Regions from separate parts of the Homo sapiens genome. Here region 1 is reported to be linked to region 2. The links are microRNA targets in miRTarBase. Many come from high-throughput screens and were not tested one by one. Region 2 holds a microRNA gene; the other region holds the end of a gene's coding sequence.

Evidence for each region. The annotated mature microRNA hsa-miR-9500 reads AAGGGAAGAUGGUGACCAC and lies in region 2 at 2,688-2,706, opposite strand. An mRNA with a match to its seed (bases 2 to 7 or 8) in the 3' UTR can be bound and repressed. Matches are read on the target gene's strand: a 7mer-m8 pairs with bases 2 to 8, a 7mer-A1 pairs with bases 2 to 7 and ends in A, and an 8mer does both.
Region 1: the mRNA of NCR3LG1 is a reported target of hsa-miR-9500. The part of its 3' UTR that is shown has no 7-base or 8-base seed match.

Annotation. Positions count from the first base shown.
Region 1 is chr11:17,371,732-17,377,045 of GRCh38, reverse strand. NCR3LG1 (natural killer cell cytotoxicity receptor 3 ligand 1) reads right to left here. Exons shown (of 5, transcript NM_001202439.3): 5 at 1-5,040. The coding sequence ends at 4,534. Among named protein-coding and RNA genes, the nearest start is that of KCNJ11, 14 kb to the left of the region's middle. RefSeq lists an enhancer at 168-706 and a silencer at 5,128-5,314.
Region 2 is chr2:218,820,424-218,825,797 of GRCh38, reverse strand. MIR9500 (microRNA 9500) reads right to left here and starts at 2,708; the gene lies at 2,644-2,708. It overlaps PRKAG3 (protein kinase AMP-activated non-catalytic subunit gamma 3), which reads left to right. Exons shown (of 14, transcript NM_017431.4): 11 at 1,222-1,259; 12 at 1,430-1,576; 13 at 1,920-2,152; 14 at 2,722-3,490. The coding sequence ends at 2,036. RefSeq lists an enhancer at 1,737-2,936.

The DNA of each region.
Region 1 (5,314 bases), not on the chromosome of region 2:
GGTCTGGAATCCCATGAGGGTGCATGTCTGGGAAGGCCTATGTGTTGTTTTTTACATTATAGTGCCATGTGTCAGGGTGGTTACCCAGAGCCTGCCATTCCCAGCAGGACTTTCAACCAGGAGGAGACGCTGAATTCTGAAAGCCTCCCCTCCATATGGCTTCCAATTTTCTTAGATCATCCTTCTTATGTCTTTTTCTCCAAACTTCCGAGCTTTCAGCAATTACAAGTATGGTGTTATAATATTTGAGATCTCCCAGGTATGGTCCTTTTCCTCTGCTTTTAAAACAGGAGGAGGCATTTGCTATTACCCGGCCAACTTTTCCTAGCCTGAGGGTGTGAGGCTTATCTTTGGGGAAAGTGTTTTCTGGCACCAGGGAGGAAATGCTTTCCTGGGAGGAGTTAGTTACTCAGTTGAAAGTGTTCCCATACCATGTTCCATTTATGCCTGACAAGTCTTTAATGGCTAAAGGTAAAGCTAACAAAGGGAATGCTAAGACAGTAAATACCAAGTCATCAAGAGGTTCCTTAGTGTTACTGAACTGAGCAAACCGCTCAGGACAGACCCAGCAATTTGTCTTGTATAAATGGGACATGGCTGACACAGTAGAGGCTAAAGGGTGTGACGTATTACCAAACCCAATAAAAAGTCCTAGCAGACTCGGCCCTACTGGGTAGAGGCTTCTTTAAATGAGGGACCATTGTTGTTTTGGAAGTACTTAGGGAGCCCAAAGTGAGGAATTATTTAACTAATTAGTATTCTCACCACCTCAGAGGCCTTTTCTGTTGGGCATGGGAATGCCTCTACCCAGTTAATGAAGGTATGCACCCACACCAAAAGACATTGAATGCCATTTATTTTGGGCATATGGGTGAAGTCTATCTGCCAGTCCTCCCCTGAGTAACTTCCCATCCTTTGATTGTGGTGGGGAAGAAGTCATCTGTTAAAGGGATTATTTTTAAGAGGGTTTCACGAGTATTAACAACCTATTTGACCATTTTTAGTAGATTTTCTCCTGAGAACAATCTTTGGATGCACTGATGTCTTATGCTTTCCTAAGTGAAAGGCTCAGTGGAGGATTTTAAGAATCTTCCATTGGCTGGAGGCTGGCAAGCGTACTTTGCAATCTTCTGATTGTAACCATCCTGAGGGTTGAAAAGTATACCTCGAGAGGTGGCCCATTCTATCTCTGTAGGGGAATACTGAGGCTTTATTTCCCTTATGTAGCCCTCCCAAATCAGAGGGGCCTCAAGTGTTTTGGGACCTTGGGGCCTTCTTACTGCTGACTTAGCTCTTTGGTCTGCTAGCCTGTTTCCTTTCGCTATTTCATCTACCCGCTTCTGATGCCCTCTGCAATGTCTGACCACTAATTCTCATGGGAGGAACACTGAGGATAATAGCCTGTTGATGTCTTGATGGTATTTAATGCAAGACCCATTAGCGGTGAGGAAGTGCCTTTCCTTTCAGATGGCAGCATGGGCAAGGAGAACTAGAAAGGTACACTTGGAGTCAGTATAAATGTTAGCTGTCTTTCCTTTGCTTAGTTCAAGTGCTCTTGTGAGAGGGATCAGCTCAACTGATTGAGTGTGTGTGCCTGGTGAGAGAGGCACATTTTCAATGTTATTTAGGGTGACTACTGCATATCCCACTTTTCAGACTCCCTGTCCTACAAAAGAGCTCCCATCCATAAAGTGGGTCCAGTCTGGATTTTCTAGGGGAATTTCTTTGAGATCCTCCCTAGCGGCATAGGTTGTACTACAGTCTGTTCACAATTATGTTCAGTTTCTCCAGTTTCCTCTGGGAGGAAAGTGTCTGGGATCAGGCAAGGTCAGGTTTTTAACTGGACTGCAGATTCCTCTAGCAGCAAAGTCTGATACTTGAGGAGGCAGCTGTCTGTTAGCCAGAGACTCGCTTTAGAGGACAGCAAGCCTGCCACATTATTTATGTGAGGCATAAACAGGTTATTCCCCAGGGTTAACTTGGTGGCCTCTGGGACTAGCAGGGCCACTACTGTAACTGCTCAGAGGCAAGCTGGCCATCCTTTAGCCTCCAAGTCAAGCTCTCTACTTAAGTAACCTACTGGCTGTTGAGCTGGGCCTTGAACTTGAATTAAAACTCCCAGGGTCATTCCTTTCCTTTATGATACATAAAGATTAAAGGACTTCCCTACAGAAAGACTGGGGGCTGGTGCTTTAAGCAAGGCTTGTTTTAACTGATTAATGGCCTTTTGACCTTCAGGTTCCCAGGTCAGGAAGTGAGTTTTAGCCACTTGAATTTCTTTTATAAGGTGATATAAAGGGCAACCTATTTTATCATACCTGGGTATCTATAACCTACAAAAACCTGTAATGCCCAAGCATCCCTCAGCTGCTTGAGGGTTCTGGGGAGAGGAAGGGAGGAAATGGGATTAATCCTCTCCTCGCCTAGTGCTCTTGTTCCCTTCTGACAAGACCAGACCTAGGTACTTTACCAAAGTCTGATAGAGCTGAGCCTTAGATTTTGAAGCCTTATATCCCTTTCCAGCTAGGAAATTAAGGAGAGCCTCAGTGCCGTCTCAAGAAACTTCCTCAGTTGGGGCACAGAGGAGAATGTCATCTACATATTGTAAAACTTTAACCTGAGAATGGAAGAATTCGAAGAGATCTCTTGACAATACTTGCCCAAATAGGTGGGGGCTATCTCTAAATCCCTGAGGCAGTACAGTCCAGGTTAACTGGGTGGTTTGATTGGAGGGGTCTTCAAAGGTAAACAAGTATTGGGAGTCAGGGTATAAAGGTATACAGAAAAAGGCATCCTTTAGGCCCAGAACTGTGAACCATTTAGTTCCCTTGGATATTTGAGTTAGCAAAGTATAGGGACTGGGATCTACTGGATGAATCGTAATCACAGCCTCATGAATAAGGCAGAGGTCCTGAACTAGTCTCCCTTCCCCATTGGATTTTTGCACCCCTAATATTGGGGTGTTTCAAGGGCTACTGCAAGGCCTAAGGAGGCCTTGTGCCTTTAGGTTATCAATGCTGGCGTCTAGCCCTTTTCTACTTTCTGGCTTCAGAGGGTATTGTCTCTGGTTAGGAAAAAAAGTGGGATCCTTGAGGTGGATCCAGACTGGTATAGTGGTTATAGTCCGGCCACTTCTTCCCTGAGTTGCCCAAACCTCTGGGTTAATACTGGTTTCCACTAAGGGGAGGCGGAGTTTGTCCTGGAGCCATAAGGATGGTGGCCCCCATACGTGCTGGAATATCTCTATCTAATAAAGGAGTGGGACTTTCAGGCATGACTAAAAAGGCCTGTGTAAACAGTAGGTCCCTCTGACTGCAACTAATAGGTTGAGAAAAATATCAAGTTAAAGTCTTTCCTGAGATGCCCATCATGGTTGTGCTATGGGAGGAACGAAGGCCTGAATTGGAGAGGAAAACAGAAGCCTGGCTCCAGTGTCCAGAAAGAAGTCTACCTTCCTCCCTTCGAACTCCAGAATCACCTGGTGCTCCCGGGTAGTAACAGCAGTCTGAGCCACTGGAGCCAGGGAGTTGAGCCCCAGGACCCATCAGTCCTGCTGGACCATTTGTGAGACTGGCTCTGGACTCAGTGACCTATGCTTCCCAGGACAGTCTGCCTTCCAGTGGTCCCCATTGTATACTGGACAGGGTTGAGGTGGCTTCTTCTTGCTGCCTGGGCAGTCCCTTTTGAAGTGCCCTAGTTTGCCACATTGGTAGCAACTAGCAGGTGTACCTTGGGGATACTGGGTTTTATACAAAGTGGCCACCAGAGTCTCTGCCTTTTTCTTGTGTTTCCTCTCCTTCCCCTGGGCCTCCTCCTGGTCCCTATTATAAAAGACCGAGGTGGCTACCTTCAGGAGGTTTTGTAAGGTGCTATCTAATCCCATGGCCTGTTTCTCTAGCTTCCTTCTGATATCAGGGGCTGTCTGAGTAATAAACTTGTCTTTCAAAATTAGCTGTCCCTCAATTGAATTATTTATGTGAGGTATAAACATACCTAACAGGAGACAAGGAAGTGTGTTTCACTACAGCCTCTCTCAGCCTTTCCAAAAAGGCTGAGGGATTTTCATCTAGTTTTTGATCTATCATGGAGAGTTTGGGGTAATTAAGAGGCTTGGCTCTGGTCCTCTGTAGGCCCTCTAATAAGCACATTTGAAAATGTTTTCTTTGCCACTCATCTAAGGTACCACTGGGGTCCGAATTATGTTGTTCAAGGGGCACTGCCTCGCTTCCTATTGGGTATGTGAATGCTGGTTGTTTCTCACCTTCTTTCCTTATTGAGTGGCTATAGAAGACATGTTGTTCATCTCTGAATTTTTCTGCTGCCTGCAGGGCTACCTGTTTCTCTGTAGTAGTTAAGAGTTTAAGAGCAACATAACATCACCCCAAGTAAGGTCAAACACCTGAGTTAGGTTTTGGAAAGCCTCTATATATCTATCAGGTCATCAGAGAACTTGCCCAGGTCCCCTCTTATTTGCCCAAGGTCCTGTAATGAAAAGGGAACTTGGACCCTAGTGGCACCAGGTCCATCAGGCATTTACTGTAGGGGTAACAGTAAAGTTGGGGGTTGGGAGGATAGAACTGGAGTTGTTGATGTTGTGGCTGGAGGAGGTTCCCAGATAGGGGAGACAGGAAGGATTGGGGCATCCGGAACTGCATCCGAGTGTTCCCTAGGGGTTTGTTTCTCAGACTTTGTGGAATTATCATCTATGGACTTGCCTGATGTAACTGTTAGGAGAGCAGGGTCAATTCTACAACACTGACAAAGATCTGGGTTGTCTCGCAAGGCAAAGAAGGCTTGCACATAAGGAACCTCGGACCATTTGCCCTCCTGTCTGCAGAAAACATCTAGTTGTTGAATAGTATTAATATTAACACTTCCCTCAGGAGGCCAAGCCTCCCCATCCTGCAGCTGGTAAGACGGCCATGCCCGAGTGCAAAAGAATATGAGGTGCTCTTTCTTCAGAGTCTGAGTGTCAAAGGAGTTCCAGTGTTTCAGAATGCACTTGAGAGGAGTATAGGCTGAAGATGATTTGTTACATATCTAGAAAAAGAGGAGAGAAAAGGCATCCCTTAGTCTCCTTTGTCCTTCTGGAGTGATCGACAGCAGAGAGAAAAATGGAAGGGGCGTCCCCCTTCTCCTCTTCCCTCCCATTTCCTCAGGTTCCTGGTGACCATTATAGGTGCTGCCCATGGATCAAAGCATGACCTTCACCCATGAATCCGGAGGAGCTAGCTTGTGCTCACCTGCACAAGGTCCTAGCTCTCTGCCCTGCTGGTTTCCTAGACCTACTTGGCCCATAAGGCTCCTGAGATTC
Region 2 (5,374 bases):
CAACAGAGCGAGACTCCAAAAAAAAAAAAAAAAAGTGCATTTTATACCACCAAACAAAACCATGAATAATTCATATTATTGTCTGACATCCAATCCTTATTCTCACTTCTCCATTTCCTCAAGAATGTTGGGTATTTTGGGTGTTGTTTTGGGATGGAGTCTCCCTCTGTCACTCAGGCTAAAGTGCAGTGGTGCCATCTCGGCTCACTGCAACCTCTGCCTCCCGAGTTCAAGTGATTCTTGTGCCTCAGCCTCCTGAGTAGCTGGGATTACAGGCAAATGACACCACGCCCAGCTAATTTTTGGGGGGTATTTTTAGTAGAGATGAGGTTTCACCATATAGGCCAGGCCAGTCTCCAACTCCTGACCTCAAGTGATCCACCTGTCTTGGCCTCCCAAAGTGTTGGGATTACAGGCATGAGCCACCGCGACCGGCCAAGAATTTTTTTTTTTTTTTTTTTTGAGACAGAGTCTTGCTCTGTCGCCTGGGCTAGAATGCAATGGTGCAATCTTGGCTCACTGCAACCTCCACCTCCCAGATTCAAGCAATTCTCCTGCCTCAGCCGCCCAAATAGCTGGGTTTACAGGTGCGTGCCATCACACCTGGCTAATTTTTTGTATCTTTAGTAGAGATGGGGTTTCACTATGTTGGCCAGGCTGGTTTTGAACTCCTGACCTTGTGATCCACCCACCTCGGCCTCCCAAGGGAATGTATTTTTCATAGTTGATGTGTTCAAAACAGGATCCAATTGAAGTCCATGGTTTACATTCGTGTCTTTTGTTCCTTAAATCTCTTTAAATCTATAACAGCTCCATTCCCCCTAAATTGTTATGACGTGGGTGAGTTGAAAAGCCTGGGTCAGTTGTCCTATAGGATACCCCACATCCAGATTTGTCTGTTTGCTTTCTAGAGCTGGCCTTTACTTTGTTCTCTATTCCTGGGTTTCCTGTAAACTGAAATTATATCTAAAGGCTTGAAGAGATTTGGGCAATAAATTCGAGGCTAGACTATTTTGTAGGTGGTGCCATGTTACTCACACTGCATTTCCTCAGGATGCTCAATGTCAGGCTGTCTCACTCTGGGATGCTAAGTTTGATCCTTGGGTTCTGGTAGTGGCACCCTGATGCAAATAGCCCTAGGCCCTCTACACAGCACCCCGGTTCTGACCGGAGCCTCTTCCCTGTCTTTCTCCCCCCACCCCCCACAACCACCCTCTGCAGGTCAGGTCGTGGGCCTCTATTCCCGCTTTGATGTGATTGTAAGTGTCGCTGGAAAGGTGGGATGCTGCAGGGAGGCTAAGGGTGTGGGGATGGGTGGGGGGCCTCTGTGGACCAGGGGGACCTTGACAAGTATGCAGGGGTTGACATCTGTAGGGTAGGAGCCCAGGCAAGGGGGTGACTAGGAGCCATACTTCTCTCTCTGCCCCAGCACCTGGCTGCCCAGCAAACCTACAACCACCTGGACATGAGTGTGGGAGAAGCCCTGAGGCAGAGGACACTATGTCTGGAGGGAGTCCTTTCCTGCCAGCCCCACGAGAGCTTGGGGGAAGTGATCGACAGGATTGCTCGGGAGCAGGTACCGTGTGCCCTCCATTCATGCCCCCAACACATATAGCCCAGTCCTTCTCATGCACGGCTCCAGCCATCCCTGAACATCGGGCACCTGGCCTATCCTTCCATTTCATGACCAACTCCTGGTGCCCACACTGGCCTGCACCTGGTCCTGTCCATGGGGCCCTTATGCCAGGGGTCACTGCCAACTGATCACCTTAGGCCGGTCACACCATCCCTAACTGGTTTCTAGGAGACGCTCTCTCCCTCAGTCATGTTGGGTTGTTTCCCCTGATTCTTGGCACCAACCTCAGTAGCTGCTGTAGCCCCATGGCTCTGCCCCCTCACTGAACATTGCGGACCCACAGGTACACAGGCTGGTGCTAGTGGACGAGACCCAGCATCTCTTGGGCGTGGTCTCCCTCTCCGACATCCTTCAGGCACTGGTGCTCAGCCCTGCTGGCATCGATGCCCTCGGGGCCTGAGAAGATCTGAGTCCTCAATCCCAAGCCACCTGCACACCTGGAAGCCAATGAAGGGAACTGGAGAACTCAGCCTTCATCTTCCCCCACCCCCATTTGCTGGTTCAGCTATGATTCAGGTAGGCTCTGCCCTGGGCCATGACACCAGCCTCTTAGTCTTCCTGATTTCCTGGATCTCAGATTGGGACACCCTGAGGATGGGAGTGGCCAAGCTCAAAGCTGAGCAGCCCTGTGAAAACTGCAAGTGTAAGGACTCACAGGTCCCCACTTTGTCCCATTTTCAGCTGAGGTCATGGAGACTGTCCTAGAAGGGAGGGACAAAGCCCCGGCTAAAAGCTAAGGCTGCGATGTGACTTCAGACACTCTGGGAAGATTTACTTGTTCCCTCACAATTCAATTTCCACCTGCTGGAAATCCCCTTAGAAGGAAGCAAGCTATATCAACATTTGTTGGATGGAATTTCCATCCCCAGTAAGAACTAAAGCTTAAAGGAAGGAGCTTCTACCTACGTGCTCATCTCAGGAAATGTGACATGATCTCAGACTCTTTCCTGGTCACACGTTTGCTAGGGGCTTGCAGAGGATGGGCACAGATTCCATCTACTCACCATGGCTGGCAAGGGTCCCCTGTTGGAAAGGCCGCTGTCCCTCCTATGTGGTCACCATCTTCCCTTTTCTTTTCCCCACAGGCTTCTTCAGCCCTCCCAAATTGCCCTTGCCCTACCTGTGCTCCCAGAAGCCCTCGGGCATGCCCAGTGCACCATGGGATGATGAAATTAAGGAGAACAGCTGAGTCAAGCTTGGAGGTCCCTGAACCAGAGGCACTAGGATTACCCCAGGGCCATCTGTGCTCCATGCCCGCCCATCCCCTTGCCGCCTGACTGGGTCGGATGGCCCCAGTGGGTTTAGTCAGGGCTTCTGGATTCCTCGGTTTCTGGGCTACCTATGGCTTCAGCCTTCAGCTCCTGGGAGTCCCAGCTGTTGTTCCCAGCAACGTCGCCACTGCCCTCCTACTCTCCAGGCTTTGTCATTTCAAGGCTGCTGAAATGCTGCATTTCAGGGGCCACCATGGAGCAGCCGTTATTTATAGAACTGCCTGTTGGAGGTGGGGAGTCCTCCCTCCATTCTTGTCCAGAAAACTCCTTAGCTCTCGCAGTGAGCCATGTTCTTAGTCTCCAGGGATGGATGGCCTTGTATATGGACCCCTGAGAATGAGCAATTGAGAAAACAAAACAAAAGGAACAATCCATGAACTTAGATTTTATTGGTTTCACTCAAAATGCTGCAGTCATTTGACCTGAACTTGTGGCAAGAGACTTGTGCTTTCTAAATTCAAAGACTAGAAGGAAAATGGATAAAAATCACAAGTGCCGTTTCTCTTGCAATGTAGCGCTATTCTACTGAAATTTCTTTCTTCTCTTTTCTTTACAAAATCATAAAGAAAAAATTAATTCATTACTTATATAGTAGGTACAACTCAGCCTACAAACTCTAATCTGCAAGAAGCATAACTTTATTTTTCTAACACAGAATGTAATTTCTATTAGGAACCCCGTTTCAGCAGGTGGTAGAAATTAATCTCAGTCAATTCAAAGTCTCCCCCTGACCTTTTCCTGGGGTTAAGCTCGGTCGGGTGGGGGTGTGGCTTTAAGTCATGTAAGACTCTGTTCCTCGGCTATCATCATCCGTCCATGCTCGCACCTGCCTGGACATCCCCTCCCCATCTGGTCATCAGTTGGTCATGCAAGGTCTGCCAGGGGCTCCTTCACTTCCACAAAGCCTATTTGGGGACCTGTGGCTTGGAGCATGTGGAAGATTCTAGCTCCTGGCCCTGCACACCCTCTGGCTTCAGGAAGCTCAGTAATTCTGTTCCAGGCCAACTGCTAAGATAGACAGCCCAGTCCCTTGTTCCGCTCTGTGGCTTGCTGTTTTCCCAGGCTCTACCCAGGAAGCGTGTGGGTTCTTCTACCCAGTGCTTGCCTACACTTATCACCTCCAAACCTATATGGAGTATTTGTCATACTTTCCCCCTCTTTAGCCGCAACCTCCTTCTCAGGGTCCTTTTCTCAAGAATTCCAGAAATGTCAACATTCGCCTTGCTCCCCAAGCCCTGCCAACCTATGGAATCTTGACCAGTGGGGGAGAGAGGAGGCTTTTATTCTTTAACCCATCATATATTCTTCCAAATGCACTGTAAGTGTCCTGAGTTCTTGCCACCCACCTTCAGAATCAAGCTTTTAAAATTCCAAAGCCAAGGCTCGCTTCTGCTATGTCACCTTCCCTGTGGCAACGGGCACCACATGTCTGGCTGTCCAGAGAAGGGGGAGATTACTGTCTCTAAAACATGACCCCTTCCCCTTACCTCACAGAGCGAGAAGGCAGAGGCTTTGTACTGAATTGGTTGGACCATAAATGAAGATGTTCCCTCACTAGACATTTTGCCAAAACCTGAGGGTCAGTGCTGGCTCTGCTGTGGTCCCGCCCAGGGAAGGTCCAGGGTCTTGGGCTCAAGGGAGAGGATTGGAGTTGGGTGATGGTTGGGTCTGGGCCCAGAGAGGATCTCTCCAGTGACAGTGTTCCTGGGGAGCCTAGGGCTCTGGGATCTTGTAACAGGTCAGTCCTTTGAGGCTGTGCCTCTGGGTGGCTCTGCTCTGTGGGACCTTCTCTGTAAGGGCACATGCCACCCTCCCTGCCTCAGACCCCTCCTTTGGTCACAGCCCGGCCCTTGCAGCCATGATGGCTGCTAGAAAAGAGTCACGGAGTTTCCACCGGGGCTGCGGCGGCTGCTTCTTCCACTCCAGCTCTGAATCGAAGACGTGCCCTGTGTGCAGCCCGCTGTGCCGCCCACTCTGTTCCTGCATGTGAACTTGGGGCGGGACTGGTTTTCCAGGCACTGCTGCCTCCGTGCCCCCAGCCCCTCCTCAGACCTCTGCGGGCCTCTCTGGGTTTCTGTAGCTTCCTTCGCTTTCCCGTCTCTCTTCTCACAACCCCTTCAGAGCTCTCCACCATGGATGTGCATCAGGATCACCAAAGAAGCCTTACAAAATGCAGATTCCAGGGCTCCATTCCATACTAATTTCCTCATTTGGGGGTGGGAACTGAGCAACTGTGTTTATTTTCTATAAATGCTAGAGACTTATGACTAATAGCACATGATGAACATGAGACTGGGCTGAGAAATGAGGATGCCCCATGCTCATAGCTAGTCAATCATTTGTCATATGATGGAGTCTAGCTATTATTTAATTAGGCCTAGGGTCTCCGAAAAGCAATGGCTAAGGGTAGTGGCGCAACATAGATGTATGACTCATTACCATTCTCACCACCCTTCTCCCAGACCTC